Homo sapiens: one gene and its partners. The protein of the gene in region 2 interacts with the protein of the main gene of each other region in a pairwise test. Each region holds a gene or a part of one and is shown on either strand. Other genes may lie near its edges.

Region 1 (7,296 bases), on a different chromosome or scaffold from region 2:
CACTGATCTTTATATTCCCTGCTTTCCACACCTTGTTTTGAAGGAGCTCAAGTATTTGTTCTGTTTGTTAAATTGAATGCTTTGACCCCTGGGGCCTTTCCTGGAGCTTATTTTGCTTTGCTTGTTTTGGAATGTTGTAAAAGTTTGTTTTGTTTTAATTTGCCTCCTTCTGAAAGGTTGGCCTGCAAAACCAACAAAACCAGGGAACCTTTAGAAAGGCTGGTGAGGGTCCTCAGCAGTTAGTTTCTGCTGAGGGTGTCAGGCTGAGGCGACGGAGGTGGTGGAAGTATCAGCTAGATCATTTTGCGTCTCATCTGCATTGTTACCAGGGTGGACTTTGACTGAATGCCTACTGTGTGCACTCCCTGTGCTCACTGAAAGCCTATGTGGCTGTGGGACAGAATGGAAAGCAGAGAGGAAGCTAAAGATAATTCATTGATTTTTTTTCCCCCTGTAAAATTGTCTGGCTTTCTCCTTTTCTTTTTAAAATTATGTGGCACTGCCACATCAGGTGAGTTCATTGTCTTCCCAGAGTTAAGTACAGAGCTTCCTTCTGCGAACCTGGAATTGTCAGAGAATGATCCTGGTGCACAGATCAAGACAGTTTCTTGCCTAGACTGTGGCTTCTGGAAGCCACTGAACAATTTCTTTGCCATGTGGGTTTTGCCTTTTTTTAGTGTTCTTCCCAGGCATCACTGAGAGGGTCCTCTTCAACACCTGCTGTTGGCCAGGACTCTGCTCTTGGTCAAGAGGATCATATTTTTTCATGTGTTCTTTTTCTTTTCTTTTCTTTTCTTTTTTTAAACAGAGTCTCACTTTGTCGCCCAGGCTGGAGTGCAGTGGTGCAATCTCAGCTCACTGCAACCTCTGCCTCATGGGTTCAAGCAATTCTTGTGCCTCAGCCTCCTGAGTAGCTGGGTCTAGAGGTGTGCATCACCACACCTGGCTAATTTTTGTATTTGTAGTAGAGATGGGGATTCACCGTGTTGACCACGCTGGTCTCGAACTCCTGACCTCAAGTGATCCGCCCACCTTGACCTCCCAAAGCGCTGGGATTGTAGGCGTGAGCCACTGTACCCAGCCTTTTCACATGTTCTTAGTGTCTTAAAATGACTTGCCTTTTTTTTTTTTTTGGACCCTTTCTTCTTAGGCATCCTTATTTCTTCTTTGAACCTGGAGCATCTTATGACATACTTCAGCTTTTTTCTTTTCTATGACCTTCATAGATGGGCATAAAATAATTTTTGTACTGAGTTTATTTTGCCATACTGAAGCGGTGTTGTTGTCTGGGGTAATATCTGAGGTTCATTGTCCCACAGCCATGGAAAATTAGGATGCAGACACACCAGAGTGAGGTTAAGAGTGGAAGTTTAATAGGCGAAAGAGAAGAGCTCTCTGCACAGAGAGGGGTCCCAGAGAAAATGGGTTGCACTTCTGCAGTTAAATGAAGAAGGTTTTATAGATGAGCTTGAGGAGACCATTTACATAGGGGACGAAAGATTGGTTGGACCATGTGTGCCATTTGCATAGTTGTGAAATAGCTGGCCGTCCCACCCTAATCTTTTATTATGCAGATGGGTTCTCTACCTGGTGGGCACCATGTTGCCTGGTCCTTACTGTACACGTGGTGACAAAGAAAAGGGAACATGGAGCCTCCACTCTGAACACACCTGGCTTCCAGGTGGCCCTTTTCTATTGGCACAGCTGCTGGCATTCACCTGTGCAAGCTTCCAGCTTGCTTATCTATGCAGCTCGATTTTTCAGGCTGCTCTTTGTTAGAAAAGAAATGATTTTGAGGCTGCTTTTCCTTAAAAGGGAAACCTTGCTGAGGACTCTTTTGCCGTCACTATCTGCCTAAATAATTTCTTTCTAGCTCCTGTATCAATACTAGGATTGCTATAATGTTGACATAATCTAAGGGGTCTCTCCTACCTCTAGTCCATCTTATATCAAATTATAAATTTGCTTTTCTTATAATGCTACCCTTCTCAAGAACCTTCAGCGGCTCCCCCTTTTCTTTGACTATAATTATAAATATCTCCTTTTGTAAGGAAGGTCCTCTACAAGATGGTTTCATCACTCTTCATGTTATTTTTTTGGACTTTTAAAAAATTACTCAACCCAGCCAAACTGGGCTGCTTGCTGTTCTCAGAAGTTAACCTACATTTTCCCACTTCAGTGCATTTACTTCAAACTATGACCTCCCTTCCTGATGAAGTGAAGCCCCATCTGAAGTGCTACTTCCTCGGAGATCCTTTCCTAGGCTCCCCTATTCCTGCTTTGAACTTCCTCTCTTGTGGCACAAATCACATTATTTGACATGTGTTAGAATAAATTTGTATATAGAGTATCTTTGGAAGAATATGGTAGAAACTGGTGCAGTGACTCTGGAAAGAGGAACCCAGTGACGGGACACTGTGCACCCTTTTTGAATTTAATACCTTGTATATTTCCCATGAGTCTGTTTTTTTTGTTTTGTTTTGTTTTGTAAAAGTATTTTAGATAACAAAAACCTAATCCCTAAAGCATTACAAGAAAATACTGGAGAGTATGTTTATAAACTCAGAGTAGAGAAAGAGTCCTTAATCCAGAAGCCATAAAGAGAATGATTTTTTAAATATATGTGTGCACTTAATGGTCATATCCCTATTTGGCAAGAAGGACCTGAGGTGCTTATATTTTTGTCCTTTTTCAGAGCATAGCACAGTGACCCCCTACTCAGAATCAGTAAGTATTAGTTGAATTGAAATTAAACTGAATTACAAGTCACTTCTTTGCAGTCCTCACTTTTTTTTTTTTTTGACTTATTATGAGTGCTAGGTGACCGCCAGGATCCCGCTCAAAGATTCTGTGGAGATGTGGGTTTTATGGAAAGAGATACCCAGCAAAGCAGGAGTGGCTTTAGAATCAGCAGCTCTTCCCCTGAGACTGTCCTTCCCAGCACATTGGACTTGTGTGTGGGTCCTGCCTGCTTTCAGGAGCTGCCATGGGGTGCTCAGCATTAATTATGCCACGGAAATGAACCAATTAGACACAGTCCAAGGAGAGCCAGGGAGTAAGTCAGGGAGATCTGTGGCAGGCCTGCTGCCCTGAACAAAAGAGGGAAAGTGTAAAGGCTAAAGCAGTTTGCGGAGGTTTCTTTGGAAATCTAGCTGGCCAGCGCTCTGAACTACTTGGCCAAAGTTAAAGAGCACCAGAAGGAGTGTTTGCGTTTTTCTTTCTCCTGTTCAAGACTCTGGTGGTGGAGGAGAATAGGGACAAGTTGGGTCCTTAGAGGGGACTTGGGGGGAGCTTACTGGAGCTCATCTCCTAGTTTCAGAGAAGCTGCCAGACTTCTCTGGATCCCTGTGGCACCTACCCAGCTTTGTTTTGTTAATAGCTTTTTAAAAATGGCATCTTTTTTTTAGTGGCATCACCTAAAAAAAGAAAAGAAAAAGTGCCTTTTCTCCCCATCTCAAGTGATAAGCAAATTGAGGGTAGGGAGCCATCATCTCTTTTCCATTTGGTGTCCACTCCCCAACCTGGCTGGCAGTCAGCTTGCTTAACAGCCATTTGTAGATTGGAAAGAAGAGGCATGGGTGAGAGAGGCTGTGAGGGCACAGCTGCAGGGTGGTGTGGTCTGCCCCTCTCGTGGATGAGAAACTGCCTTATCTTGGACAGTCAGGCACTGTGGTGTGACTCTCAGTCACTCCAGGCCTGTCAGAGGAAATGAGAAAAAGAAAACGACCGTTCTTATTCTCATACAGATGTCCTTGTGATATTCAGGATGGGGGCAGGTTATTTGTCAGCAAAATTGAATTTCCTTTGGAAAACTTTTGGTCTTTATTGCATTCATGGTTGCCTGGCCATTCTACCTCAGCCCAACATTCCAAACAGTGATTCTGTAGTGCCCCCACTTTTACTGTTTTGGCTGGTAATACCCGGCAGTCCACCACCTGGGGTCTTCAGTTTTGCAGTGTCAGTCCAGAGTGGAATCAGAGGTTGTCCTTTTCCTCCTCAGGTCCACTCAGACCTTCCAGATCCTCTGACTTACCATTACTGCAACTTACCAGGGTTCCCACCATACCTAGGCACTGCCTGCCATCTCCCTAACTGACCAGTTTCAAGAGGGCAAAGGGGAGGTAACCTTGACACCCATACCCCTTAAAGGCCATGCAGCTCATGGGGTAGAAGCAATGTCTGCTGGTGGAAAGAGCAGAGGTTTAGAATCAGAAGATTTGACTGTGACCCCAAGCCTGCCATTTACCTTGCTGTAAGCTTGGCTAAAAGTCACTTAACTTTTGTGGCCCTCAGTGTCTTCTTCTTCAAAGGAGAGTAACGATAGCTGTCTCACAGAGTTGTCAGGACAAATAAGGCGGGAGGTGAAGGTGCTTTTGAAACTAGGCAGTCCTGTATATCAGTGGAAAATGTGGAATTTATCATGGGATAGAGACAGGTGGTGCCATTGACTACTATAGTCAGAGAATGGAAGATGCACAGGGGGTTTGGGAAGCCTCCCAGGGAATCTATCAGAAATCCCCTCTCAGGCCAAGAGTGCACGTTTTTATTATACAATAGAGTCTTTTCTGACATTGATAGTGGAAACAAGGCCAACATTTTTCCTCCTTTCACTGTGATTTATTATGTGTGTTACAGGCTTTATTACATAATACAGGCTTTATTAAAACTATTATGTCTAGATCTCTATAGGTTCAAGACTTTAGAGTCTGCCGTTCATTTATGGATGGAATTCTCTTAAGGCATGGTGGGGAGGGAGGGGGAAATGTTGCAAGCAGCCACTTCCCCTGTTGCCAGTATACTTCCCCTCTGTCAGTGGCAACCTGAGTTTCCAGGGTTTGGTTAACAGTTCCTCCAAGGAAAGGGTTATTTCCTCCTCCTGTGTTTCCTGTAGAGGCCTTCAGAGCTGCGTCACTGAGAGCAGACTCCTACTGGATACCTCACCACTGTACCCCTGCTCTCTCCCTGTCTTTGCAGTGTGCCCCCTACCACCGGAGCCAGAGAATGGTGGCTACATCTGCCACCCCCGGCCCTGCAGAGACCCCCTGACAGCAGGCAGTGTCATCGAATACCTGTGTGCTGAAGGCTACATGTTGAAGGGCGATTACAAATACCTGACGTGTAAGAATGGCGAGTGGAAACCAGCCATGGAGATTAGCTGCCGTCTCAACGAGGGTCAGTCTGGCAGATGAAAAAGGGATGCTGCTGGGGTTCTGCTTTCTGTTAACTCACAGGATGCAAAGCATGCTTCCTCCAGAGCACTCTTTGCTGTGGTGCAGCCCAGCCCCAGTTGATGCTCTGCAGCCTCCCTTCCTTGGGTCTTCATGTCTTTGTGGAAGATACTTGAGGTTGCTGGTGCATGTCCTATTGCATTTCATTGAGCCATCTGCCCTGCTCTGTAAAGCCCGTTTGATGTTCAGGATCTCTTGTTTGCATGGCCAAGTGTTGGTGACCCTTGACCATGTTCTGCCCTCACAGTGAGCACAATGCTAATACCTTCTCTAATGTATCGTCCATTTCATTTTTCCTTGAATGGAGCTACAGACCAGCTGGACAAAAGACCTCCCACCCTTACTGCTTCCTCCTGTCTTGCATGACAGGAAAATCCACCTGCTTGCAGGAAAGTGTGTCATATAACCATCTTTGTGCTTCCCACTCAGGCTTCAAGACCAGAGCATGTTTAACCCATGACACCCCAGAAATGGGTGGGAACCAACCTGAGAGTTACAATTAAAGCTGTGGATCTTAAGACAAGGTTTTATTACAGTCCAGTTTCTGTAAATTAATCCTGCCACTTGGGAAGAACATAGGTAGAACTTAAGATGGTGGAATGACATGCCCAGTTAAATTGTCGATGTTTACAAACTTCAAGCTTTTGAGGATGGGATCAAAGTGGTTTATAAAGGTAAAATCTCTAGGGTTAAGTGAGTTTATGTGTCAGATGGACCTCAAAGATTGGAAGTGAGGGGAATTTTTTATTCAGGAAACAGGATAGGGAAATGGTCCTTTTCCAAAAGAACTGTGTATACATAGGTCATTCTAAGCTGTTATTCCTGAAATGACCCTGACCGTAGGATGTCTGTATTGCACCATTCAGGAGGCATTTGACAAGATCAGCTGTGGGGCCCATCAGCTGTTTTGTGTATTTGGGTACAAAACCCTTCTGATGATGGCTTGTTTTTATAGATAAAGACACCCACACATCACTTGGGGTCCCCACGCTGTCTATAGTGGCTTCTACTGCCAGCTCCGTGGCGCTCATTCTCCTCCTCGTGGTGCTGTTTGTGCTGCTGCAGCCAAAGCTGAAGTCTTTCCATCATAGCAGGTGAGTCCAGTGGCAGAGCTGACATGAGACAGGCAGGTGCAAGCATTACTGTGGGGGCCAGTCTTTGGTGGAGGGTTGCTGGTGGCCCCAATCTCTGTGGGTCTGTGTGTGTCCAGGGAGTGGGGAGGGCCCTGCCATGTGTCAAACTCCTAGATGTGCCTACCATTGTGCTTATTGCTTTGCATACATTATCTTAATCCTCATAGGAACATTGCAGATGAGGAAATTGAGGCTCAGAGAGGTTATTCACTCAGGGTTATACCTCTAGATGACAACAGAGCTCAGAACTGAGGCTGCGCGCGGTGGCTCATGCCTGTAATCTCAGCACTTAGGGAGGCTGAGGTGGGCGGATTGCCTGAGGTCAGGAGTTTGAGACCAGCTTGACCAACATGGTGAAACCCTGTCTCTACTAAAAATACAAAACAATTAGCCGGGTGTGGTGGCGCGCGCCTGTAGTCCCAGCTACTCTGGAGGCTGAGGCAGGAGAATCACTTGAACCCACGAGGCAGAGGTTGCAGTGAGCCGAGATCACACCACTGCGCTCCAGTCTGGGAGACAGAGTAAGACTCTGTCCCATTAAAAAAAAAAAACAAAAAAAAACGGAAATCTGTTCAATTCCAAAGCCATGTCATTTCCCCTACACCAGTCGTTCTCAAAGCGTGGTTCCAGCAGCGTCAGGATCATGGAACTTGTTAGGATCAACCAAATGAGAAGCTCTAGGGGTGAGGCCCAGTGATATTGTTTAACAAGCTGTCCAGGTGATTTTGATGAACACTTAAGTTTGTGAGCCACTATCCTGCACTCCTGGTTCCCAGTCCCGGCTGCAATATAGAGGCACCTGGGGGAGTTTAAAAACAAATATCAACACTTGGGCCTCCATTCCCATTCTGATTTATTTGGTTTGGAATGGAACCCTGGCATTCACTTTTTATAAAAAGCTCAGTTTTTCTGTGCAACTAGGATTTAGAACCACT
Region 2 (7,296 bases):
AACATGAATGAGAAAAAAAAAAAGGAAAAAAGAAAAAAAAGATAAACTGTCAATATTCCATGTTTATTATGAAACCCACATGTGTGCATAATCTTTTCTCATCAGACTTTCCCTGATCCACCCAGGCAGCTTCTGACAGGTGGATTCTTTCTCTTTTCCAGGCTCTTGACCAGACTCCATGAGTAGAGGCAAGAATTGGACTTTTTCTGGGACACAGGATTTTCCTGTGGGATTTAAGCCGCAGCTCTCCAGCCACTTGTGGCAAACTGAAAATATCAATCTTGCTTATGCCAGTGAACCAGAATTAGGGGGATTTTTCTGGCAGAAATGTCTCTTTCTTGAGAGAAGAAACGCAGAGTCACACAGCAAGCCCAGGAGAGGACTTGGGCCAACTGAGTGAGAATCTACAAGGACCACAGGACCCAACTCCAGGCCGGGCCATGGAAGCAACAACAACCAAACAGCACAAAAAACTGCAAGAGCAATAGGGGACTCAGGACCCTAATGTCCACAGCGTTGGTAAGGAGAAGAACACACTCGAGGAAGCAATAGTTCCTTGTTAAGCCCATAACACTTTGAGAGAATTCGAAAGGGCAAAGATAAAGTCTAGTTTCACTGCTAAATTGGAAATAGTAGGCTATTTCTTCTCTTGTAAACTGTTTTCTACCCAGCAGTAAGTCTGTCAGTTGACACTAAATATAAAACATGAAAAGATGGTGGGGAAAACTGAACGGCATGATCACCATTATTTAGGTCCGTAACCATTGTTTCATTCTCCAGCTCAATCGTGTATGACCAGCAACTGTCAATGGAGGGTCACTTAAGAAAAATGCAAGGTTCTGACGATTATCCAACTCACACTTACCAAAGTGATTGATGGGGGTTTCTGAAACCACTACAAGTAGCAGTACCTGCTCGTGGATGCCAACAACAGCCTGCCTGGCATTGTCATGTGCATACATGTGCCATTTGGATACGACATGCCAGTAGCAAGAAAAAATAGGTAAAAATCATACCTCTCTGAGCAATCAACATTAGCAAGTAGGAGGTCACTGGAGTGGAGTAGAATGTGGGTCACTCGAGGGAAGGTGGCCGGCTGCATCCACAGTCATTTACCCATCCAATAAACATTTCCTAATACCTGTTAGGAGCCAGAAACTGAGACTAAATTTAGCAGAGTGTCTGGGTTTTGACAATCCTTTGGGTTCTCAGTCTGACTTCAAAGTTCCCCATGAATCCACAAGACAGCTAAATCAGTATTGCCCCCATTTTAAAGCTGGGGACACTGAGGCCAAGTGTACCTGTTAGAGGCCACACAGCATGGGAGCAAAACAGGGCAGAGCCGATCTACCTTCCACCACATGGAGCCATTTCTAAGGAAACGGAGCTGAGGCAGCCAAGATGGACGCTTCCTGGACTTCCTCCTGGGCCAGCCCTGCCCCTGCTCTGAGCACGTCTAGGTCCGGCTATTCTTCAGTCCCACCTCCTCATGAAGCCACTGCCTGGCTTTGTTCCTCAATGAGCCTGCTCACACTGATACTCCTAGCCCTTCGAATACGCTGGAAGCCACAGTTTCATTAAAAAATATATTTTCTGATAATGTGATCATAGAAAACTTAGAAAATGTGGAAAAGAAGAAAATAAAAAATCATCCATAACCCTGAGCGCTTTGGCCACGTGCCCCTCTGGGAGGACAGGTGCATCCACTGGTCCTCTATGGAGTCCTAGCCTCTAGCACAGTGAGTCGTGTGGATCAGGTACTCAGTGAATGCTTGTAATTTTACCAAAACCAATGTTGATAAACTTTTGACTTACCCTTCTAATGCCTTTTCATGTTGAAATCACTTAGCAAATTGTTTTCTCTCTCCACCAATAATCTAAGGTTCCCCCCAACGGTAACCTGCTCACTTCTCCACAGTATTTTGTCTAGTATCCTCATCCTATCCACATCATACTAACATTGACTTAGTGCCTACCGTGGATAACGCACTGCACTGAGTACCCAACAAAAACTCCATTAATCTTCACTGCAACCCTAAGGGAACTATCATCATTAATTTTCTAATTTTACAAATGAACTGAGAAACAGAGAGGTTAAGTAACTTGTCTAAGGTCACACAGCCAGCAAGTGGTAGAACTGAGACTTAAATCCGGGTAGCCTGACAACAGACCTTGGGTTCTTCATGACTGTAGTACCTGTTCCCTCATAATTGGGTTAAGAGATGACAAGCAACCCCCTGCAGAACATGCTCACAGAAATAGCTCTCCCAAGAACCAGTAGAGTGCAGTAGGCAGAGCAGGGGACTGCTCTAAGATGAAGGTAAAAACACTCCTCCTGGGGCTGGCCCACGATAAACAAAAAAGCAGCTGCATGGATTGATCAGATTCCCATGTATTTTCAGGGAAATGATGTGCTGGTTTTACCCACTTGATAACCTGTAGCATTTGGGTAAGCGTTTCAACAAATACGTTCAACTGTGATGACAGCAACAAAACCCCTACCTATGTCTTATCTGTAACAAACCTCCCTTACGTAAAACAAACAGATAAATGGTGCCATTGGGAAGCAGTGCTCTATTTGGTGGAGGTGGAGAGTGTCAAAGTTTCTCCAGGGATCTCTGTGGTCCTTTATTCGGGTTTGTGACGCTCCCTCTCATTCAGTCTGGGGCGCATCCTGACTGGGAGAAACTTGAGGCCTTCAGCACTTCATCTTTACCAGTCCGGGAAGGTGCCTCCCACCAGCCTTGCCCTCAGGGGTAAACCGGCCCTGCCAGAGGGCGGCCCAGCCCACAAACCTCCTCACCAAAGGGCATGCTGTGCCACGTCAAGGCCTCCTCACCTGGGGAGCCACATCCCTGCCCACAAGGTAAAGTTCCACTTCAGAAAGGAAACCTGGAAGCCCAGCAACAGCACACCAAAGCTGTGGGCCCACGTGACACATCTCAGCGCCACCTGAAAGAACTTCCTCAACCAATCCAACTGCTTTCAGCTGCACATCCGGATTTCTTTTGGACCGCATTTGTTTCCTCATTTAACGTGGCTAGCCTGGTTGCCAAAATACAACCAGAGCCTCGGTAAGGAAAAACAGCACAGTGACTCCCGGCTGGAGCTCCCCTTCCCAGGTGAGCCAGTTCTGCAGGGAGGGGAGGCTGCCTGCCACCACAGACGACACCCACAGAGACCAGCTGGCGGCAGGTCAATGAGTGAGCCCCTGTGAGGAAACCTGCTGCAAAGCGAACCTCAGTTGCTAACGGGTATTCTTCTGGTTAAAATTTACAGGAATCCATTTCTTTTTAATTTTGCCTAATGTGATCTCCCTTCTTCGATGTCTAACAGGCATTTAAAACACTGACATGTCCAAAACTGAGCTCTGACATTACCAACCCCAAACTCCCCACCACCCGCCCCCGCAGCCTTCCCCATCTCAGTAAATGACTAGGCCATTCCCTTCACTGCTTGGGCAAGAAACTCAGGGTCAGCCTTCTCTCCCTTTTTCCCACATCCCACTTCTGATCCACCAGCAAGTCCAGCTGGGTCTACTCTCAAGGTATCTCCAGAATCCAACCCCTCACCCCGCCTCTGCCGTGACCGTCCCAGTCCAGGCCACCACTATCTCTCACCTGGATGACAGCAATGGCCTCAATGGCCTCTCTGTCCCTCCCCTAACACAGCCTGTTCTCAACACAGTCATCAGAGGGAGGCTTTCAAGATGTGAAGTCAGGTGACATCCCTCTTCTGCCTAACCCCTTGGGGGGCTCCCCATCACTCCAGAGTAAGAGCCCATGTCCTTCTGTGACTCCTGGAATTCCTCCAGCTCACCTCTCTCTAATTCCTTCAGCCACACTGGCCGCTCCTGCTCCCTGGACACAGGTGTTGTCCAACCCCGAGGCCTTCATACCTGCTGCTCTCTCTACTGAAAATGCTATTCCCCTAGATTTTCTCATGGCCCACTCTGTAGTCTAAGTTTTTCCTCAAATGTTACCTTCTCAGCAAAGCCTTCCCTGGTTCCCTACTCAAAAATTCCAGGACCCCTGACACTTTTTACCCCATTCCCTGATTTCTTTCCTTTCTCTTTGGCACTTAATTACTAGCATCATTTCACGACATTACGTGTGTCCTTGTCTATCCTGTCTCCCCCCACTGGAGCACAGGCTCTGTGAGATCTAAGCTTCTCATGCTTTAGTTCCAGTGCCAGGAACAATGCAGTACACAGTGCCATGTACCCAGTGGGTACCCAAAACATATTTATTGAATGAATGAATGTGGGACAGACTGGTACTTTTAAGTCAAGTATCTATTTTGAATGTGCCAAACTGGCTTAGAAAATTAACAAACAAAAAAGGGATTTCAGTGGTTTTTGTCACTCTATTTGATTTCTGTCATTTGCTTAAGCAAATCAGAGTGACAAAAGCCACTGAAATCTCATTTCTTACAATGGTGCACAAAGTGACTGGGTCCAACTCTTTCATTGAGAATGACTAAAAAAAGCTGAATTAAATATGAAAAATACCTTCTTAAATATAAAATATTAACCAGGAGAGGGTAAGCCAAACATAAAAAGCTGCTTTTATCCTGGGGGCATTTGCTGACCTGGAAGCAGCAGCTAGAAACTTCACTGCTTTCTCAGGCTACTCTAACAGTTTTCCAAAGGAGCAGACTATACACCATCCCCACTTGAAGCTGGGCCCCCAGAGGCCCACACCCTCAGAACGAGGAGGAGGCACAGGAGGCCAGACCCGCATCCTGCCTTCTCACCCCCGGGAGCCATCAGAGAACCACAAGACTTAAACTGTGCTAAGGTGTCTCAGACTAATAGGCCCCCAAGTCCTGACGGAAGCAAACAGAAATCCTCTCTGGAGTAAGGTACTGTCATCTCAGGCCTCACTTTATTCCTACATGTAAACTTTCAAATACAATAACTAGCACACAAAGATAATCCCACACACAGAGAAACAAGATACCAGGTTTGAGAACTAGCAGAAACAAAAGAAGACCAAACAGACTTACAAAATGAAATATCATCAGACATAGTCTACTATGCAACCAAGCTTACTATGTTCAAAGAAACAGAAGACAAGCTTGAAAAACGCAGCAGAGAAGGAGACAGCATTAGAACAGATTTGAAAAATAAATAGAAATTCTAGCAAATACCACTGAACATGTGCAGTATTTACAGTGGGCAGGGAATCGAACTTAGGGGAAACACTGAGACACTGGTGATGGGACTTTATCTTCCAATGAAGATAAAGGGAAGTAGGTAATCTTCAAAATAGAAGTGAGCATTCATTTTAAAGGTTTATCAGCTAGAATGAAAACAGACTGTCAGCTAGCCACAGAAATACACATTCCTAAATCCCAAAAGGGGAAAACAAAGCAACAGTAGCTCATAACAGAGACTTTTTAAAAATAGAAAAGAATAGAGCCAGTATCCAGTTTCATCCTTTTCCATACCCACAAACGTGGAGGTATTAATATAACCTGTATACAGCTTCCCAGCAATCCCCAAATATACGCCCCACTATTATAAAAGAACCTCCATTGGGCTTGCAAGTGCCATGGTTCCAAGTCTCCTAGAGGAGAACAGGAACACTCAGTTGTCTCATAAAGGATCTGTTTGCTTCCCCCCCCATCAGGGATTCTCAACTCAAGTGATGCTAGAAATAACCATCATCCCTGCAGCAAACAGCTGTGTCACATCCCGTCCCCCTCCTCCCGCCCTCGGCCTCCCTATACTGGCTGCTATCTCTAAGCCACAGGACAGACAAGAGAAAAACAATTAGTCATCCCAGGTTTTGCCCACCTTCCCCACCGCCCCTGTTATTCTAAACACAATCACCATAGAAAACAAGCTGTGGTGAGAAGCCAAGCAGGCACCTACAGGTCTGAAAGACTTGAAGACTTTTTCCAGGACTTCGTGGAGCGTCTTCTTGCCGCAGGAGGAGATGTAATCCTGTGCTAGCTGCAAGAAAGGCAGGCAGTCCTCGCTCTCACTCCACACGTGCTGCGTGCCCACGGGCGACGGAAGGAGAAAACAAAGACACACAGTCACTACACTCAGTGTGAAGTTCAGAAAAGCCAAGCAGATTTTCTTAATAACATCAATTTGAAGAAGGCCTCCATTCTACAGTAAAATTCATACATGCGTTCTTGATTTGTTTGCGTTGAAAGGGAAGAAAAAATGTCTAATCTATAGAAGCCCCCGAGCTTTTGGTCCATACCTCACCTGCTCTGTTCATCATCAGATCTGCTCCTACACAGTAAAGAGGGCAGTGGGTGGCCATTCCTCACCAATGATTTCCACTGTTCACCTTGTGCAGGCTAAGGGCGGTTTTCAGACATGGGGAAGGAGAAACCAGAGCCTTTGCCTTCAAAATCCTTAACTTTGCTTTCAGCTACGGCTGAAAGATTAATTAAGCATAGTTTGTAAGCATTAACTTGGAACAAGACATTCTTTACCCAGATCGGCCTGTGAGTAGGCGTGGTGGTAAATTTACTTCCAAATGCAAATAACTTAAGAGAACCCACCAAGTCACCACTATGTCACTGGAAAACAAAGGCTTTCTGAAAACTTCCCTTCCCTAAAATGCTTTAAAAGGACATCATACCGAAGCATCATTTCACAATCTAACACATACTAAGAGGAGATCGGTTTTAGATTTTTTGTTTCTTTTTCTTTTTCTTTTTCAGACAGGGTTTTGCTCTGTTGCCCAGGCTGGAGTGCAGTGGCATGATCTTAACTCACTGCAACCTCTTCCTGCCAGATTCAAGTGACCCTCCCATCTTGGCCACCCAAGTAGGTGGAACTACAGGTGCGCACCACCACACCTGACTAATTCTTTGTATTTTTGGTAGAGACAGGGTTTCGCCATGTTGCCCAGGCTGGTCTCGATCCACCTGCCTCAGCCTCCCAAATTGCTGGGACTACAGGCGTGAGCCACCATGCCCAGTCTAGGTTTTATTTTTTCTGAAGACTGGGTAAGGCTTTTTTCCATGTGAGGATATCCATTTTAGCACATCTTTAAGACTAGGCAAGCCTCTCTCATAAATGTTCAAAGACCTGGAACAAGGCCAAGAAATAGGTTTGAGCATTCTTAATGCAGAATACCCTGCCCTGCATATCTAAGCAAGTCAGGGACACGGGGCTTCCAGGGTAACATCAGAGTATCTGTCAGGTACCAAGAATCACTCTTTAGTGGGGACGGATCCAGGATGGCTAAACACTGGCAAAAAAAAAAAAAAAAAAAAAAAAGTATTGAGGTCTGGGAGAAAGAAAGACATCTGGCAGATAAGAACAAG
Region 3 (8,086 bases), on a different chromosome or scaffold from region 2:
TGAGATGACTCTGCCAGAGTAAGCAGCCTCCAACCACTGTCCAAAGTGAAACCTGTCCCGAGCTGCCCCACACACTCCTCAGTAAGAACACGGGAGGCAAGGGGCTCCCGCACAGCTGCCAGCTGCTTCCCTGCCAAAACACCTGGAGCTGCTCCTCTGCCTCTCAGCAACTGCTTCAGGTCAGGCTGGGTGAATTTCCCAGGGAGCCCGTTTTCACTGGCCAGGCCAATGGCAGCGGCCATGTTTCTGCCTTTTCAAATCATCGAATCAGGCAGGACCACAGGATGCAGTTCTGCCCACGGAGAAGCCAGAGCAATACATGGGGTCCATTGTGAGGGGTCTCCCTGCTGCTGGCGGCATACGACCCCGCTCCCTCTTCTTTCCAGCTTGCAGACTGCTTGTGATGGCAGAACACGCTGAAGGGAACCGAGCCTTTCGCAACAGGAAAGCCACCAGGCAGGGCTTGGCTGCAGGACTGAGTGGCTCAGTGGCAGTCCCCTAGTCAGAGTGTGACTTCTTCCGCCTTCTGGACTTGAACGTTGCACCTCTTTGCAGGGGCCCTGCAAGCCCTGTCCCTCCTCCCCCATGCAGGTTTAAAAAATGTTTCCTGGCCAGGCACGGTGGCTCACGCCTGTAATCCCAGCACTTTGGGAGGCCGAGGCGGGCGGATCACGAGGTCAGGAGATCCAGACCCTCCTGGCTAACACGGTGAAACCCCGTCTCTACTAAAAATACACAAATTAGCCGGGTGTGGTGGCGGGCGCCTGTAGTCCCAGCTCTTAAGGAGGCTGAGGCAGGAGAATGGCGTGAACCGGGGAGGCGGAGCTTGCAGTGAGCCGAGATCGCGCCGGCACACTCCAGCCTGGGCGACAGAGGGAGACTCCGTCTCGAAAAAATAAATTAAAAAAATAAAAATAAAAAATGTTTCCTGTGTTCAGATGCACAAGCAAGGACAAGCTGCTGGAGGCTGCAGGCCTCTCTGACTCTAAGGAAGATCATGACTGGGCTGCGTTCTCAAGTGACCACTGGAACTTTCTTCTCCAGCTGGGGCTCCCACCTGTTCAGCAGCCCCTCCCTTGCACCACCTGCACTTGGACCATGAAGACCCACCCACTCCTCATCCTCATCCCAAAGGACTCACGCCTGCCACAGAAGCTGTGACCTGTAAGCCACTCCCCCAGTCCTGTTTCCAAATCTGTATCATGAGAGTAACAACCGTGCCACTTGCCAGGGCGCTGAGGGTTAACTGAGGCTGGCCCGTGGCACGTGGAGAGAATTGCATCGGGCCCACCATGAGTGCTCCGAGAACCACTGTCGGCCCTGGTCGCCCATCCCAGTAACAGCAGAACAAGAAGTGGTCCTGCCTGAACCCCAGCCCTGGACTGGGCCAGCCTGAGCTCCAGAAAACTGCTCCCTCCCAGGCCTCCCTCCGCGTCAGCCCTTTAGACAGCCGGTGTCCTCACGGCTGGGTGCTGACTGTCACCGACACTCATCGGCAGAGTAAGTGAGCAAGCTCTGGGGCCCAGGCAGGGCTGCTGTCCTCCTGGGGGCTGAGGGCCTCCCTACTGGCTCCTAGCAGGATTGACAAGCATCCTCTGAATGAGGAAAAGAAACCATGGTCCTTCTGTTCCCATCCCAGGCAGGGCTGGGGGAAACCCCCGGGGGCCCCGGTACACCCTCCCACCTCACTTGCAGCAGCCTGAATCATGTGCTCTCTGGCCCATCAGGGCCCATCTCCTACTCCTTAGCTCACGACCCTCCTTTTTCTCCCTCATTCAGACCAGCCTCTGTGAGGTAGGACCATCAGCCAGTGCTCCCTCGGCTCTTGGGCCAGCTGCCCAAAGTGCTGGGATTACAGGCGTGAGCATTCAACCCACCCACCACGTCCACCCGGAGGCCAGGGGAGCCTGCACACCCAGGCCAGTCACGCACCGCGGGGCCGTCCCTTCCCTGTGGTAAGCAATGGCCTGCTCACCCCAGGCCACGCCAGGGGAAGGACGACAGGGTCCTGCACAGCCCTCAACCAGGATCCAGCCGGCCTCACCACACACCACACCTGTACCCAAGAGATGTGTGTGCTATCTCTGCCCTGCCACGGCCACACCTGCCCCCACCCAGACCCCAAACTCAAGGTTGGGACAGAGGAAGGGAGGCTGTGGGGTCATCCCAGGAGGCCCAGTGGGGCCAGGAGCCTGACAGAAGCACCTACCACCCGGCTTCTTCCGAGGCCCCACAGCCTCAGGCGGTGCAGGGTCAGGGCCACAGCACCATCACCTGTCCCAGGAGGCTGAGAGGACAGAACAGAGACTGTGGGTTCTCAGCAGGCACAAAATCGGTGCTGTTACCCACGCGCGGGCCCAGCGGTCAAGGTCCAGCGGCAAGTCCAGGGGCTGTGGCACAGGCCAAGCAGCCCAGGTGGTTCCCACAGGAGGCCAAGGTAGAGAAGTCCCCGGCAGGGACGCGGCACTCACAGCCAAGGGCCGGGCAGAGGCAGCCTCACCTCGCGGGCCGGCCCTCACCTCCAGGGCGCCCTGCCAGCGGCCACTGCAGCAACCCGATACCCAGTCCCCGAGGCCCAGGCGTCCACCTCGGCGGGGGGCCGGCGAGGCCTGCTGGCGGGTGGCAGGGGGCGCAGGGAGCCGCAGCAGGTGTCTGCACCCCGCCGGGACCGCACGCCCGCGCCAGGAGCGGCTCTGCAGCGGGAGCGCCTGCGCCGGGAGCCAGGGTGCGGGAAGGAGCCCAGCAGGTGCGAGCGCGGACGGGGAGGGTCGCAGGCCTGCGTGCGCCCGCGCTCAGGGCGTCCTCCACAGTGGACCCGCTTCAGGCCCCGCCGGGACCCCGCCGCCCCTCGGCGAGAGGGCAGGAAGGGCAGACGCGGAAGGGCGGCGCCGCCCGGACCTCCCCGGCGCCGCCGAGCCCGCTTCCCAGCAGTCCCGGGCGGCGAAGACAGCGACTCCGCGGGCCCAACCCGGGGCCAGGCGACGGCAGCCGCTTCCGGGAGCCCTGGCCCCGCGCAGGTGCGGCCAAAGGCCCTCCCCGAGGACCCGCGCCCACCTCGGAACGGCAGCGGTGCCCCCAGGCGCACGCGCACGGTCCCAGCCAACGGCTCCCCGGGGCTGTAGACGACGCGGCCGTGGCTCAGGCTGATCTCGAAGAGCTGCACTCGCCCCATGCCGCGGCCTCACCGGCCAGCCGCGCAGCGACGCCCCCGCCCGCCGCCCGCGAGTCCCGGCTCCGAGGCCCGGCCCCGCCCCCTCCTATGCCCCGCCCCCATCCGTCCCAATCCCGGCCTCCACCCCCATCCGGCCCCTCCCAGGCCCTGCCCCGCCCCACGGCCCCGCCCAGCCCCCCGGCCGCCCCGTAGCCCGCGGACTGCCGCTCGGAGGCCCGGCCCAGCCCCTATTCCCCGCCCCATCCGTCCGTGTGGCCCCGCCCCCTCGTTATTCCCCGCCCCTCTGACAGCCTCCTCGCCCCGCCCCCGCCCTTCGCCCCTGCCTCGCCTTCCCAGCTCCGCCCCTGCCTCGGCCGCCCCACCCCTGCCCCGCCCCCCGGCCGCGCTCATCCATCCCCGGCCCTGGCCCTGTCCCGGCTGGGTAGGTGCTGCGCTGCGTCGGGCGCCGCTTAAGGGACTTGAGGCGCAAGCGTCCCGTGCGTCCCCCACGGAGGGAGTCACCGCCGCGTCTCCGTCGGGGGGCAGGGCTGGGGGCGGGGCCGAGGCGAGCTCTGAGACTGGGAAGGTCTCCCCGCTGCACTCTGCTGCGGGCAGAACCCACTCCTCCGCCCCCACCCTCCGCCCGTCCCGCCCAGGGGTCTCCCTCACCCCGAGTCGCGGAAAAACGTCACGGGGCCGCGCGGGCGTCCTGGGCGGGGATGCTCCGCCGCGTAGGACCTGCCCCGCCTCAACCCCCACCCCCGGCTCCTGCCCCGCACCCCCAACCTTCTCCGCACCTACCTCGCGTCCCAGCACCTGTCGCGCCCCTCCGGAACCTGCCCGCCCTCCCGCCTTCCCGGTACCTGCCTACCCCCGCAACTGTCCCGGCCCCCAACACCTGCATCGCCCAACCCCTTCCCCCCCCGCCCCCTGCCTTCCCCGCACCTGCCCGGAGTCCCAGCACCTGCCCCGCCCCCCGCTATCCCCCTCCTTGCTGGCCTGATGGGGTGTGGGCCCAAGGGAGCCACACTTGGGCGGAGGCCCTTGGGCAGGGGTCCGCAGCAGAAGGGTCGGGGGCCAGGTGGGGCGAGGACTTGGATCACTTGAAACCAGGAGGAACACACTCCCATTTATCTTTTTTAAAGGGTCCCTTTGTAGAGAGTGAGCCGCGGGGGGTGGGACTCAAATACCCAGGGGACCTAAGGCGGGAGAGACCGGTTGGGTAGTCCTGGAGAGGGAAGGCGTCGCTCGACAAGGACCAGCTCACCACGGAGTGGGTGTGCGGGCCCCAGTGCTGCGAGTTTTTCTAGGACAGCCGGTGAAGAGGGTGGCCTTCTCTGATGGGGAGGACGGACCTAGATACACATGGTTTGGGGGTGGGAGGGTCATCACATGCAGAGTCTGAGGTGCCACTGATCCCCAATGGACCAAGTACTTCCGTGCATGAGCCTGGGAGTCAAGCACTAAAATGTTGCCATCCCTAGTTGGTAGAAGGTAACAGGTCAGGGAGGAGGAGTCTGGCACCCCAGCAAAGAGAAAGGGGCTCACAGGCTGGAGGGGCCCCCGGGCCAGGCTGGGAGAGGCCCTGAAGCCCCAGGCCCAGCTCACTCCCTTAGGATTCCGATGTTTCCGGAGGTGGGTCTAACTGGCCATGCTCCAGACACTTTCCTGCCAAGGCTATGCACAGGCAGAATTCCCGAACAAGAGAGAAGGGTGCCATGGGATGGCAAGGATTGTGGACAGCCCTCCCGAATGGCAGTCGGCCATGCCAGAAGTCAGAAAGAAGGTGTTTCACCGGGCGCGGTGGCTCGCACCTCTAATCCCAGCACTTTGGGAGGCCGAGGTGGACGGATCACGAGGTCAGGAGATCGAGTCCATCCTGGCTAACATGGTGAAACCCCGTCTCTACTAAAAATACAAAAAGAAAAAAAAAAATTAGCCGGGCGTGGTGACAGGCGCCGTGGTCCCAGCTACTTGGGAGGCTGAGGCAGGAGAATGGCGTGAATCCAGGAGGCGGAGCTTGCAGTGAGCCAAGATCACGCCACTGCACTCCAGCCTGGGCAACAGAGTGAGACTCCATTTCAAAAAAAAAAAACAGAAAAAGAAAAAAAAGAAAGTGTTTCAAGCAAGGGACAGACAGACTGTATTGCAAGCTACTGAGATGGAAGACAATGGACACAGAACACAGGTGGCCTTTATCCCAGGTCAGCCACAATCTAAGCCCCACAGGACTCTGCACATCCTTGATTCTGACCCTATCTCCCACCCATCCTGTGTTCCAGAAACCACCACCAGCACCAACCGCCCTGTCATTAGACTCTTCTTCTCCAAGCATACTTCTAGCTGCACTCTCATGAAAACCTGGCTTCCCCTGGAGCTTTCGGGTGTAGAGATATCTTTTCGCAGGATCCCTCTACCTCTGGGTCTGTAGGTGGGGTTGGGGCCCTCCTGGCTCCTTCCTAACACTACCAGGCCATTCTCCACCCTGGGAGCTACCATGTGTAAGCTTCCTGGTCTCAGAATCACCAGCACCACCTTCGCTCTGGTCGGCATCTTCATTTCTTGGTGATTTTAGCTCCTAACTCACTGTCATTCCCTCCATCTCCAAGTGTGGAAACTCAGTGCTTCTGAATCCACACAGGCAATCCTTCCAGCCTCCTGCCCTATATCCTAAAAGTACCTGGGTTTTGTTTGAATCAGGTATAGTAAAGTGACAGACTAGAAGACAAGTGCCACAAAGGAAGGATTTAGTACTCGTGGTTCTCAGGAGGAGGGGCCCTGCCATGCCACGCAGGGCCAGAAGGGGAAGTACCAGGGTCAGGAGGAGCCAGGAGAGAGCATGACCCAGAGCCTTTTTTGTGTTTTCCTCAGGGTGAAAATGGACAAGGCAGGGTAGGTAAGTGTGAGCAAGTTTAGGATTAGATAGCTTGAATCATGTCAGCAGACTCTAGGTCACAGCAGGGGGCTCTAGCCGTCTGGTATCTGTCCCTGGGGGATGCAGGGCAGGAGAAATGCTGGCTTGGGGTGTGAGAGTCAGATCAGGAAGAGACTGGGGATATGGGCTCTGGATTGGTGTTTATAAAGTTGTTTGCTAGCTCTGGGGATTAGCCAGCCCTGGAAGGGGCAGCATCTCCCTGACTAGTAAAGCCCCCAAGATGTCAAAGCATAATAACATACAGAAAAGGAAAAGTGTGGGCCGGGCGCAATGGCTCTGCCTGTAATCCCAGTACATTGGGAGGCCGAGGTGGGCAGATCACCTGAGGTCAGGAGTTCAAGACCAGCCTGGTCAACATGGTGAAATCCCATCTCTACTAATAATACAAAAAAAATCAGCCGGGCATGGTGGTGGCACACGCCCGTAATCCCAGCTACTCGGGAGGCTGAGATAGGAGAATCGCTTGAACCCAGGAGGTGGAGGTTGCAGTGAGCCAAGATTGGGCCATTGCACTCCAGCCTGGGCGACAAGAGTGAAACTACATTTCAAAAAAAAAAAAAAAAAGGAAGGGAGGGAGGGAAAAGAAAAGTGTGGTAAACACGTGTCAGTCTCATGGTTCCTCCTCCAAAACCCTCCTCTACCTCAGCAGTCTCCTTCCTAGGGCGTGGTGGTCCCTCCTCAAAGATCCCGCCCACCTTTGCATCCCTGCTGCTCTTCCCACCGGGGGGCTTCCCCTGGAACCTAGGCTGGCCCACAGCTTGCGTTAACTGGAAGAATTGCAATGAAACAGGCTGGGCGCAGTGGTCCATGCCTGTAATCCCAGCACTTTGGGAGGCCGAGGCGGGCAGATCGCTTGAGATCAGGAGATCAAGACCAGCCTGGCCAACATGGTGAAACCTCATCTCTACTAAAAATACAAAAATTAGCCAGGCGTGGTGGCACGTGCCTGTAATCCCAGCTACTCAGGAGGCTGTGGCAGGAGAATCACTTGAGCTCGGCGGGGGAGGTTGCAGTGAGCTGAGATCACGCCACTGCACTCCAGCCTGGGTGACAGAGTGAGACTTCATCTCAAAATCAAACAAAACAAAAACAGTCAAGGCTGGGTGTAGTGGCTCACATCTGTAATCCCAGCACTTTGGGAGGCTGAGGCGGGTGGATCACAAGGTCAAGAGATCGAGACCATCCTAGCCAACATGGAGAAACTTCACCTCTATTAAAAATACAAAAATTAGGCCGGGTGTGGTGGCTCACGCCTGTAATCCCAGCACTTTGGGAGGCCGAGGCGGGTGGATCACAAGGTCAGGAGATCGAGACCATCCTGGCTGACATGGTAAAACCCCATCTCGACTGAAAATACAAAAAATTAGCCGGGCGTGGTGGCGGGTGCCTGTAGTCCCAGCTACTCGGGAGGCTGAGGCAGCAGAATGGTGTGAACCCGGGAGGCGGAGCTGGCAGTGAGCCGAGATCGCGCCACTGCACTCCAGCCTGGGTGACAGAGCAAGACTCCATCTCAAAAAAAAAAAAAAAAAAAAAAAAAAAAAAAATATATATATATATATATATATATATATATATATATATATATATATATATAAATTAGCTGGGCGTGGTGGCACGTGCCTGTAGTCCCAGCTACTCGGGAGGCTGAGGCAGGAGAATTGCTTGAACCCGGGAGGTGGAGGTCGCAGTGAACCAAGATTGCGCCACTGCACTCCAGCCTAGTGACAGAGCGAGACTCCATCTCAAAACAAACAACACAAACAAAAAAAGAAAGTCATAGGAGCAACACACATTCACGTGGAGGGGAGAATTTGATGGTGACAATTGACACAACCTACCACCCTAGCCAACAACAGCAGAACCAACCAGCTAAGCCCATCCTAAACTACAGAATCATGAGAAAATACATAGTTGTTTAAAGCCACTAAGTTTTGGGGTGGTTTATTATTATTATTATTATTATTATTATTATTATTATTATTTTTGAGACAGTCTCACTC
Region 4 (8,244 bases), on a different chromosome or scaffold from region 2:
TCTAAAGATTGGACAGCCCTGTTCTAAGAACAAGGACATCAAGCTGCTTCTCAAATGGCTCAGAAGACTTCTGTTTGATTGCCTTAGCATGCTGAATTTCACACCACTCCATAACTTAATTCAACATTTCACTATTTATATCCTGGAGCAAAACTGAATGCATAAACTAAAACTCATCAGATAAACACTAAGCCCTAGCTGTTGGTCTCTAGAGAATAAAACACCAGCAAACTAGCTGCAAAAGAACATTATTTTTATGCCAATAAAACCTATGCAAAGCTTTAAAATGTAAGCCATATTCAACAATTTAAATTATTTTAAATTTGAATTTGTATCTCTTTGAAAGCATTGAATCGAAACAGACAACAGATGGACAAAAAATACTGCCTTTGGAATCTGACAGTTCTAAGCCTGAAGCCTACTTTGCCTTCTACTCACTAGTATGACCTTCAGCAAAATTCTAAACCTCTCTAAGCCTCAGTTTTCTTACCTGTATGACCAGGCACAACCAATTACGTCATGGGGTTACTGTGACAATTAAAGGAGGTATGTCCAAACAGCCCTGTAGTAGATGGTCCAAAAGTGAGAATTGGCCAGGCGCGTTGGCTCACGCCTATAATCCCAACACTTTGGGAGGCCAAGGCAGGCGGATCACCTGAGGTCAGGAGTTCGAGACCAGCCTGACCAACATAGTGAAACCCCATCTCTATTAAAAATACAAAAAATTAGCCGAGCATGGTGGCGCACGCCTGTAATCCCAGCTATTTGGGGGGCAGAGGCAGGGGACTCCCTTGAACCCGGGAAGCGGAGGTTGCAGTGAGCCGAGACTGCGCCATCGCACTCCAGCCTAAGCAACAGGAGTGAAACTCCGTCTCAAAAAAATAAAAAATAAAAAAGTGAGAACTGCTACAATTACATTACTATTTTGTTCCAAAAGCTAGAATTCAGGTTTAACTGTCTACAACTCCTCATGATATCCCAGTTCTCCAGCTCTCTTTCGCTATAAAAGTGGCTTCCTTATGAAAAAGGAAGAAAACTCATCTCTGTTCTTCAAGGGCAACAGTGGAGAGTCAAAGAGATGTCACAGGTACATTCTGAAACAGAAGGGAAAGAAGGTTGGGTGACCCATCAACATGTAGAGGTCAGTTCCCACGTGGCATTGGCCATTTCCAGTTGGGAACCACTTCTTAACAACAAGCCTAATACAAGCACCATCAAAGGGCAGACAGGCAAAGAAAGCAAAGAGGCAAGGAAGTCCAACTTTCCGTTTCCATGATCCACTGTGGAAGCAAATATATAACTAACAAAACAACTGGGTCAATTAGCCCCCACTTTGGGAGCATTTTTAACAGTGTGTTTTGCAGTTTTTGGTAGTTACTGTTATTAATAAGGTAATTCTTTAATTTCTTTAGACAAACAGTAAGAAGGCAGGCAGAGGAAAGGAGAAACAAAAATATTAATGCAAGCTGAAAAGCATAAGCAAAGCTTTCAGAAAGAGCTGAGAGAAACCTCCACCTTCCCAAGGAGTAACACCACAAGAGTATCTGTCCTCTCTATACCACTGCTGTACACATTTAATCAACTCAGTCCTTGAGAATAGCAGGAAATTTACTTACAGAATGTACCACCGCCTTTAAAATATAATGCTAGCAAAGAACCGCTGTCAGGTTCTGAGTTCTTTTCTGCAGCCTTCTTCAATAAGCATTTACTGACCACCTACAAAGTGCCAAACACTATGCTGTTTATTAGGGAAACCCTGCAACACAGTTTGATTCCTGTCCTCAGGGAGATCAGTACGAATAGGGAAGAGTCGAGTAAAGAGATCACCACCACAGAGAGTAAACACCAGGCACAAAGGAAGCCCAGACAAGCTCCAGTCCTATCAATATCCAGCCAACCAGCCCAGGGTTAGGAACTTTCTGAACCTAGGGAACACTCCTGAGCACCACAATTGAACCGTCACAGCAGTATTCCCACACCCCCACAGGTCCTTAGGCAGACACACCCACTGCATGGGCACAGACGCACAGCTGTGTCTGTGCATACATGTTTTGGTCATTAGTTTAGTCAACAAATACTGAGGGCCACACTAAACAGGCAGTTACCAGTGCCAGCTCGGGTCCTAATTCCTCATGTGACTTCGGACAAGTCACTTCCTGAATTGGTACTGGTTCATACCAAAGGCCACAGAAGACCTTGGAATATTCCTCCCCTCAGCTGTCAGCCCTCCTCCCTCGGTGGTGGTTCCACCCTTTCCTAAGCACTAAAAATTTAAAGGCTGAGACCATGAGTCAGTATTATTTTGAATTAACCATGTTCCTTTAATTTTTTACAGTGACCACTCCACCTCATTCCTTTCCTCCACCCACCCTGAACCGGTCTACATTTGAGATTTAAGCGGGGTGGCGGGGCGGGGATCCCTATGCAAATCCCTGACCTCCGGAGTTTTCAATCTAGTTGAGTAACAGAATCAAACATGAAGAGAGATATGTAAGATAAGGTACACCAAGCACTTATGACTAAAGACATTGCAAGGCCAAGAGCAGGTGAAATGCAGCGGGGGCGGACCGCACCGCGAGGGTAAAGCCTCAACGCCCCCCGGGACTTAAGGAGGGGAGACCTCTGGGCAGGAGAACTGAGAAGGCAAGTTCCCTGGAGCAGAGGGAGCAGCAGGGGTAGAGATCGGACGCCGGGAGACCCCAGGCGGCGGGCCGCAGCAGGTCCCGGCAGTCAGACATGTGGGACACTCCCGAGCGGCCAGAAAGGATGCAAGGCGGAGGCTGCAGTCGGGAAAGGAGGAGGGTCCGCGGGGCCGGAGAGGAGGGGCTCGGGGAAAGGACCGGAGGCGGACGCCGGGGAAGCGATGGGAAGGGGTCTGAGAGGCCGGGGGGGCCCACTGGGAGGGCTCTCGAATGGGCTGCTCTAGGGGAGACTGAGAGGGCGGACCTGGGGAAGGTCAGGGTGGTCCAGGGAGGTGGGCGGACCCGTGGCCAGGAGCCTCAGGGAAAATTAGGGAGTGGGGACACCGCGGAGGTGGCGCGGTGCGGGGTCCCCTCAGAGGGGCGCGAGGCTGGGCAGCTCTAGAGGAGAATCTGGAGAGGCGCGGGCCAGAGGGGAAAGGAGCTAGGGTCGTCCGGACTAAACAGGGACACTCACCTGCGAACCAGCGTGGAGAACACCAAGACGCCACGGCGATTCCTCGCCTGCTCGCCTGCAACTGCCGCACGTCCGGCGTCCTGGCCGCCGTTCTGACGTCACGCCTCGGCGCGCATGCGCGGCGGGCCCCGGCCGGTGGGGCGGGGTGTCTGGGTGGTTTTCTGAGAAACGGGACGGAAGGCGGCAGGGGGCGTGGGTCTCCCAGGAGGTCGGCGCTTCCACTAAAAGGAAGTGTTACAAAGTGAGATCCTGTCTTAAAAATATAAAAATTTAAAAAAAAATTGTTAGCACCCTAATCTTGGTTTCTAAATACCGCTCTCTAAAAATAGGGCCAAGGCGCCTTAGAGAAATGGGCGACTCTAGGACCCGGGCGCAGAAAGCTCCAGCTGAGCCGGGAGCGTTTTGTAGGCCAGAAGCTTGAGGTGCTCAAAAAACTGAAGGACCGGGCGTCCAAGGGCGCAGGGATCTACCCAGAGAGCTTCCGGGGGCCGCGCCTGGGACAATTTGAGCAGCAATATAAAGTACATTGCATTAAGTTATAACCTAAAGTATAAAACAGCCCAGAGCCCGTGCTGCTATAAATACGTGATTAAATAAATGAGGGAGAAGGGATAATCTTCCTTGCAGAGGAATTCTAATAATACCTCATCCAGAGGGGTGTGGTAATCCGTCCACACCCACCCTGAGTGTGGCCTATGCCTGGGGACGACCTTTCCAAGAGTACAGTGTGGAAAGAGGGCTGTAGAGCCACTCCACGTGAAAATCAAAGTGATTAGTCACTGCACTTGCCCTTGACATGTGATTAAAAAAAAAACCGTGACCTCAGTCTAACTGAAAGATAAACATCAGACAAATCTCGTTTGTGGGATATTCCTCAAAACACCTCACCAGTACTCCTCAAACTATCAAGGTAATCAAAAGCAAGAAAAAAACTGAGACACTGTCATATGCAACATGGTGATGTAGCTAGGCTATAAACTTAAAATAAAATTTAAGTTTAGGTAATAGTAGTTTTTAGTTATAAGAAATGTATAATGGTTATGTAAGATGTTAACATTAGGAGAAATTGTGTGAAGGGTATACTAGCTTTATAACTTTTTTGTAGTCTAAAATTATTCCAGATGAAAAGTTGGGGGTTTTCTGAAGACAATAGAGGGAAAATAAATGTTAGCCAGGTGAGATGGTTCATGCCAGTAATCCCAGAGCTTTGCGAGCCAGAGGCAGGAGGATTGCTTGAGCCCAGAAGTTTGACCTGCAATCAAGCCACTGCGTTCCAGCCTAGCAGGGGTTGGGGGGTGGTGTAGGGGTACTGCCTGGAAAGAGGCTTGAGAGAGCCTCCTGGCAACCCCACTCCTAGGGTGCTGAAAATGTTCTATACATTGATCTGAGTGGTGGGTACGTGTGTGTAAGTAAAACTTTATCAAGCTGAACACTATACTTAACATTTGTACATTTTTGGCCGGGCACAGTGGCTCACGCCTGTAATCCCAGCACTTTGGGAGGCCGAGGCAGGCAGATCACGAGGTCAGGAGTTTGAGACCAGCCTGACCAACGTGGTGAAACACCGTCCATACTAAAAATACAAAAAAAAATTAGTCAGGCCTGGTGGTGCGCTTGTAATCCCAGATACTCAGAGACTAAAAATACAAAAATTAGCCAGGCGTGGTGGCGGGCGCCGGTAGTCCCAGCTACTTGGGAGGCTGAGGCAGGAAAATGGTGTGAACCCGGGAGGCAGACGTTGCACTGAGCCGAGATCACGCCACTGCACTCCAGCCTAGGCGACAGAGAGACTCCATCTAAAAAAAAAAAAAAAAAAAAAAAAGATTTGTACATTTTTCTGTGTATAAATTATATCTAAATTTAAAAGGGAAAAACTCTTAAAAAAAATATTGGAAGAGCCCTATTATTATTGGTCTTCAAAACCCCAAACTCTGCCAATCAGGGCCCCTGTCTTAACCCAGCTCCTCTCTGGGGAAAATTTAAAAAATGCAGGGTAGGGAGTCCTATGATGCCTGCAATCCCATCTTTTGCAAGATATTATAGCTTAGTCAACACAAGAGTTCAGAGATTTGTGTGACATGGGGTTCTTCCTGGTTCCGCTGCTTCTGGATGAGCTCGGGTAAATTGCCTGACATCAACAAGCTTCTTGACCAGCCCTCATTAAGGCTATACTAGCCCTGACCACCTTCAGGGTCAGTCTTAGGGACCTTTCAGGGTCTGAGTTTGGAGTATCCAAAAATACACTAACACATTCTCTCTGAGTGATGGGACTGTGGATGACATTTCTTTTTTCTACTTTTCTGCATTTTCCAAGTTTTCTTTCATGAATATGTATCACTTCAACAACAGGAAAAAGTAATATTTAAGGCTGGGTGTGATGGCTCACGTCTATAATCCCAGCACTTTGGGAGGCCAAGACAGGAGAATTACTTGAGCCCAGGAGTTCAAGACCAGCTTGGGCAACACAGTGGGACACTTTCTCTACAAAAAAATAAAAATAAAAAAATTAGACTGGCATGGTGGCATGCATCTGTAGTCCCAGCTACTTGAGAGGCTGAGAGGGAAGCTTCACTAGAATCCGGGAGGTCAAGGGTGCAGTGAGCCATGATTGTGTCACTGCACTCCAGGTTGAGCAAAAGAATGAGACCCTGCCTCAAAATAATAATAATTTTTTTTTTGAGATGGAGTCTCACTGTCACCCAGGCTGGTGGACAGTGGCACCATCTAGGCTCACTGCAACCTCCGCCTCCTGGGTTCAAGCAATTATTCTGCCTCAGCCTCCTGAGTAGCTGGGAATACAGGTGTGCGCCCCCACACCCAGCTATTTATTTTGTATTTTTAGTAGAGACAGGGTTTCATCATGTTGGCCAGGCTGGTCTCAAACTCCCGACCTCGTGATCCACCTGCCTCGGCCTCCCAAAATGCTGGGATTACAGGCGTAAGCCACTGCACCCAGACAAAAAAAAAGTAATATTTTAATAAAGTTCAGTTTAAGTAGGCGTTCCAGTACCTGGAGGAGGGAGTGTCCCATAACAAGTTTTCTGATTCAGTAAAACTGGCTTTCTGGGCTGGGCGTGGTGGCTCACGCCTGTAATCCTAGCACTTTGGGAGGTCGAGGCATGCAGATCGCTCGAGGTCCAGAGTTCGAGACCAGCCTGGCCAACGTGGTGAAACCCCATCTCTACTAAAAATACAAAATAATTAGCCAGGCGTGGTGGCGGGCACCTGTAATCCCAGCTACTTGGGAGGCTGAGGCAGGAGAATAGCTTGAACCCAGGAGGCGGAGGTTGCAGTGAGCTGAGATTGTGCCACTGCACTCCAGCCTGGGCGACTGAGTGAAACTCCAACTCAGAAAAAAAAAAAAAAAAAAGAAAGAAAAGAAAAACTGGCTTCCTGTTCATGTTTATTGAGAAGAGGCCAGGGGAAAGAAGGCTGGGTGCAGGTGAGGACGCCTGCTTTCCAGCCCCCTATCTGAATGTGCAGCCTCTTGTCTGAAACTGAGAGGGAGAAGTCCAAGAGTTCAAAGAGTTGCATTGGGACTCTGTACCCATCAGTCACCTGTCTCTGTGGCCCTCAACTGGCTCAAACCAAATTACCTGCTGCTAAGCCCCACTCCATTTCTTGCCCAGTTACTAGTATGCGTTTCTTTATTGAAGAAAATAAAGTGAGAAGTTCTGGTGGTTAAAAAAGAAATTCCAGGCCAGGCACATTAGCTCACACCTGAAATCCCAACATTTGGAAGGCCGAGGCAGGAGGATCACTTGAGGCCAAAAGTTCAAGACCAACCTGGACAACATAGTAAAACAAAATATACAAAAACATAAGTAAATTTAAAAAAAAAACTCCAAATAGAACATGAAGTAAAATACCATGTCTCCCCTGCTACACCCCACATAATTGGGAATGTGGAGCTTCCAAGGAATAGGAGATAACAGGCACTCTTCCTTTACTTTTTCTTTCTTTGTGTTTTTTTTTTTTTTTTTTGAGACGGAGTCTCGCTCTGTCGCCCAGGCTGGAGGGCAGTGGCGGGATCTCGGCTCACTGCAAGCCCCACCTCCCAGGATCACGCCATTCTCCTGCCTCAGCCTCCCAAGTAGCTGGGACTACAGGCACCCGCCACCACGCCCGGCTAATTTTTTGTATTTTTAGTAGAGACGGAGTTTCACCATGTTAGCCAGGATGGTCTCCATCTCCTGACCTCGTGATCCGCCCGCCTCAGCCTCCCAAATTGCTGTGATTACAGGCGTGAGCCACAGCGCCCGGCCGAAATTTTTTATATGTATAAAAGTAGCCAGGGTGGAACAGTAGGATTTCAGCTGCCCCACAATGTTTACCAACACCCAGGTCCATCCCAAACAGACACACAGCACTAGGGAGAAGAGCAGGGGCAAGCAATGCAGAGTGCAGCGCAGGAAGCCGTTCCAGCATGCTGGCTGCACCTTTGCTTCTCCTATACGGAAACTTTGTAACTGCTTTTTGGGGTGGGAAACAATGAGTTTTTGCATGCCTAAATTTTACTTCATTTTGCCCTCAACATCTACTAAGAAGCCATGGCTTTCTTCAGACAGTGGAATCCATTTCTTTCTTTCTTTTTTTTATTTTTTTGAGACGGAGTTTCACTCTTGTTGCCCAGGCTGGAGTGCAATGGCTCGATCTTGGCTCACCACAACCTCCGCCTCCCAGGTTCAAGCGATTCTCCTGCCTCGGCCTCCCAAGCAGCTGATACTACAAGCACCCACCACGACACCCGACTAATTTTGTATTTTTAGTAGAGACGGGGTTTCTCCAGGTTGGTCAGGCTGGTCTCGAACTCCCAACCTCAGGTGATCCGCCTGCCCCGGCCTCCCAAAGTGCTGGAATTACAGGCATGAGCCACCACGCCCGGCCAAAGACAGTGGAATCCATTTCTTTTGAGGATAGTAGTTGGGGTTTTGCCCACTATAAACAGGAAGCTGCCCATGTACACAAGAATGGAGAAATAAAAAGGGGCACAGCTGTGGTACAGGCAGCCTTGCAGTTAATGTCCTTGTTTACAGGTCTGTTTCTCTCCCCCTTCACTCCCTGCTTTGGATTGCAGCCTTTTCTGCC

The links.
Region 1: the proteins of MTURN (region 2) and SUSD6 interact in binary tests that used the Homo sapiens proteins (3 or more experiments, as listed by UniProt).
Region 3: the proteins of MTURN (region 2) and ARRDC1 interact in binary tests that used the Homo sapiens proteins (3 or more experiments, as listed by UniProt).
Region 4: the proteins of MTURN (region 2) and PLEKHB2 interact in binary tests that used the Homo sapiens proteins (3 or more experiments, as listed by UniProt).

What each region holds. Positions count from the first base shown.
Region 1 is NC_000014.9:69,698,421-69,705,716, forward strand, and holds part of SUSD6 (sushi domain-containing protein 6 precursor), read left to right. Parts: intron 1-4,974; coding exon 4,975-5,172; intron 5,173-6,183; coding exon 6,184-6,322; intron 6,323-7,296. UniProt on the Homo sapiens protein: May play a role in growth-suppressive activity and cell death. May be involved in the production of chemokine molecules in umbilical vein endothelial cells (HUVECs) cultured in THP1 monocyte LPS-induced medium. Plays a role in preventing tumor onset.
Region 2 is NC_000007.14:30,144,882-30,152,177, reverse strand, and holds part of MTURN (maturin), read right to left. Parts: intron 6,002-7,296; coding exon 5,879-6,001; intron 1-5,878. UniProt on the Homo sapiens protein: Promotes megakaryocyte differentiation by enhancing ERK and JNK signaling as well as up-regulating RUNX1 and FLI1 expression. Represses NF-kappa-B transcriptional activity by inhibiting phosphorylation of RELA at 'Ser-536'.
Region 3 is NC_000009.12:137,600,804-137,608,889, reverse strand, and holds the start of ARRDC1 (arrestin domain-containing protein 1), read right to left. Parts: upstream 3,205-8,086; 5' UTR 3,173-3,204; coding exon 3,055-3,172; intron 1-3,054. UniProt on the Homo sapiens protein: Functions as an adapter recruiting ubiquitin-protein ligases to their specific substrates. Through an ubiquitination-dependent mechanism plays for instance a role in the incorporation of SLC11A2 into extracellular vesicles.
Region 4 is NC_000002.12:131,100,311-131,108,554, reverse strand, and holds the start of PLEKHB2 (pleckstrin homology domain-containing family B member 2), read right to left. Parts: upstream 3,220-8,244; 5' UTR 3,157-3,219; intron 1-3,156. UniProt on the Homo sapiens protein: Involved in retrograde transport of recycling endosomes.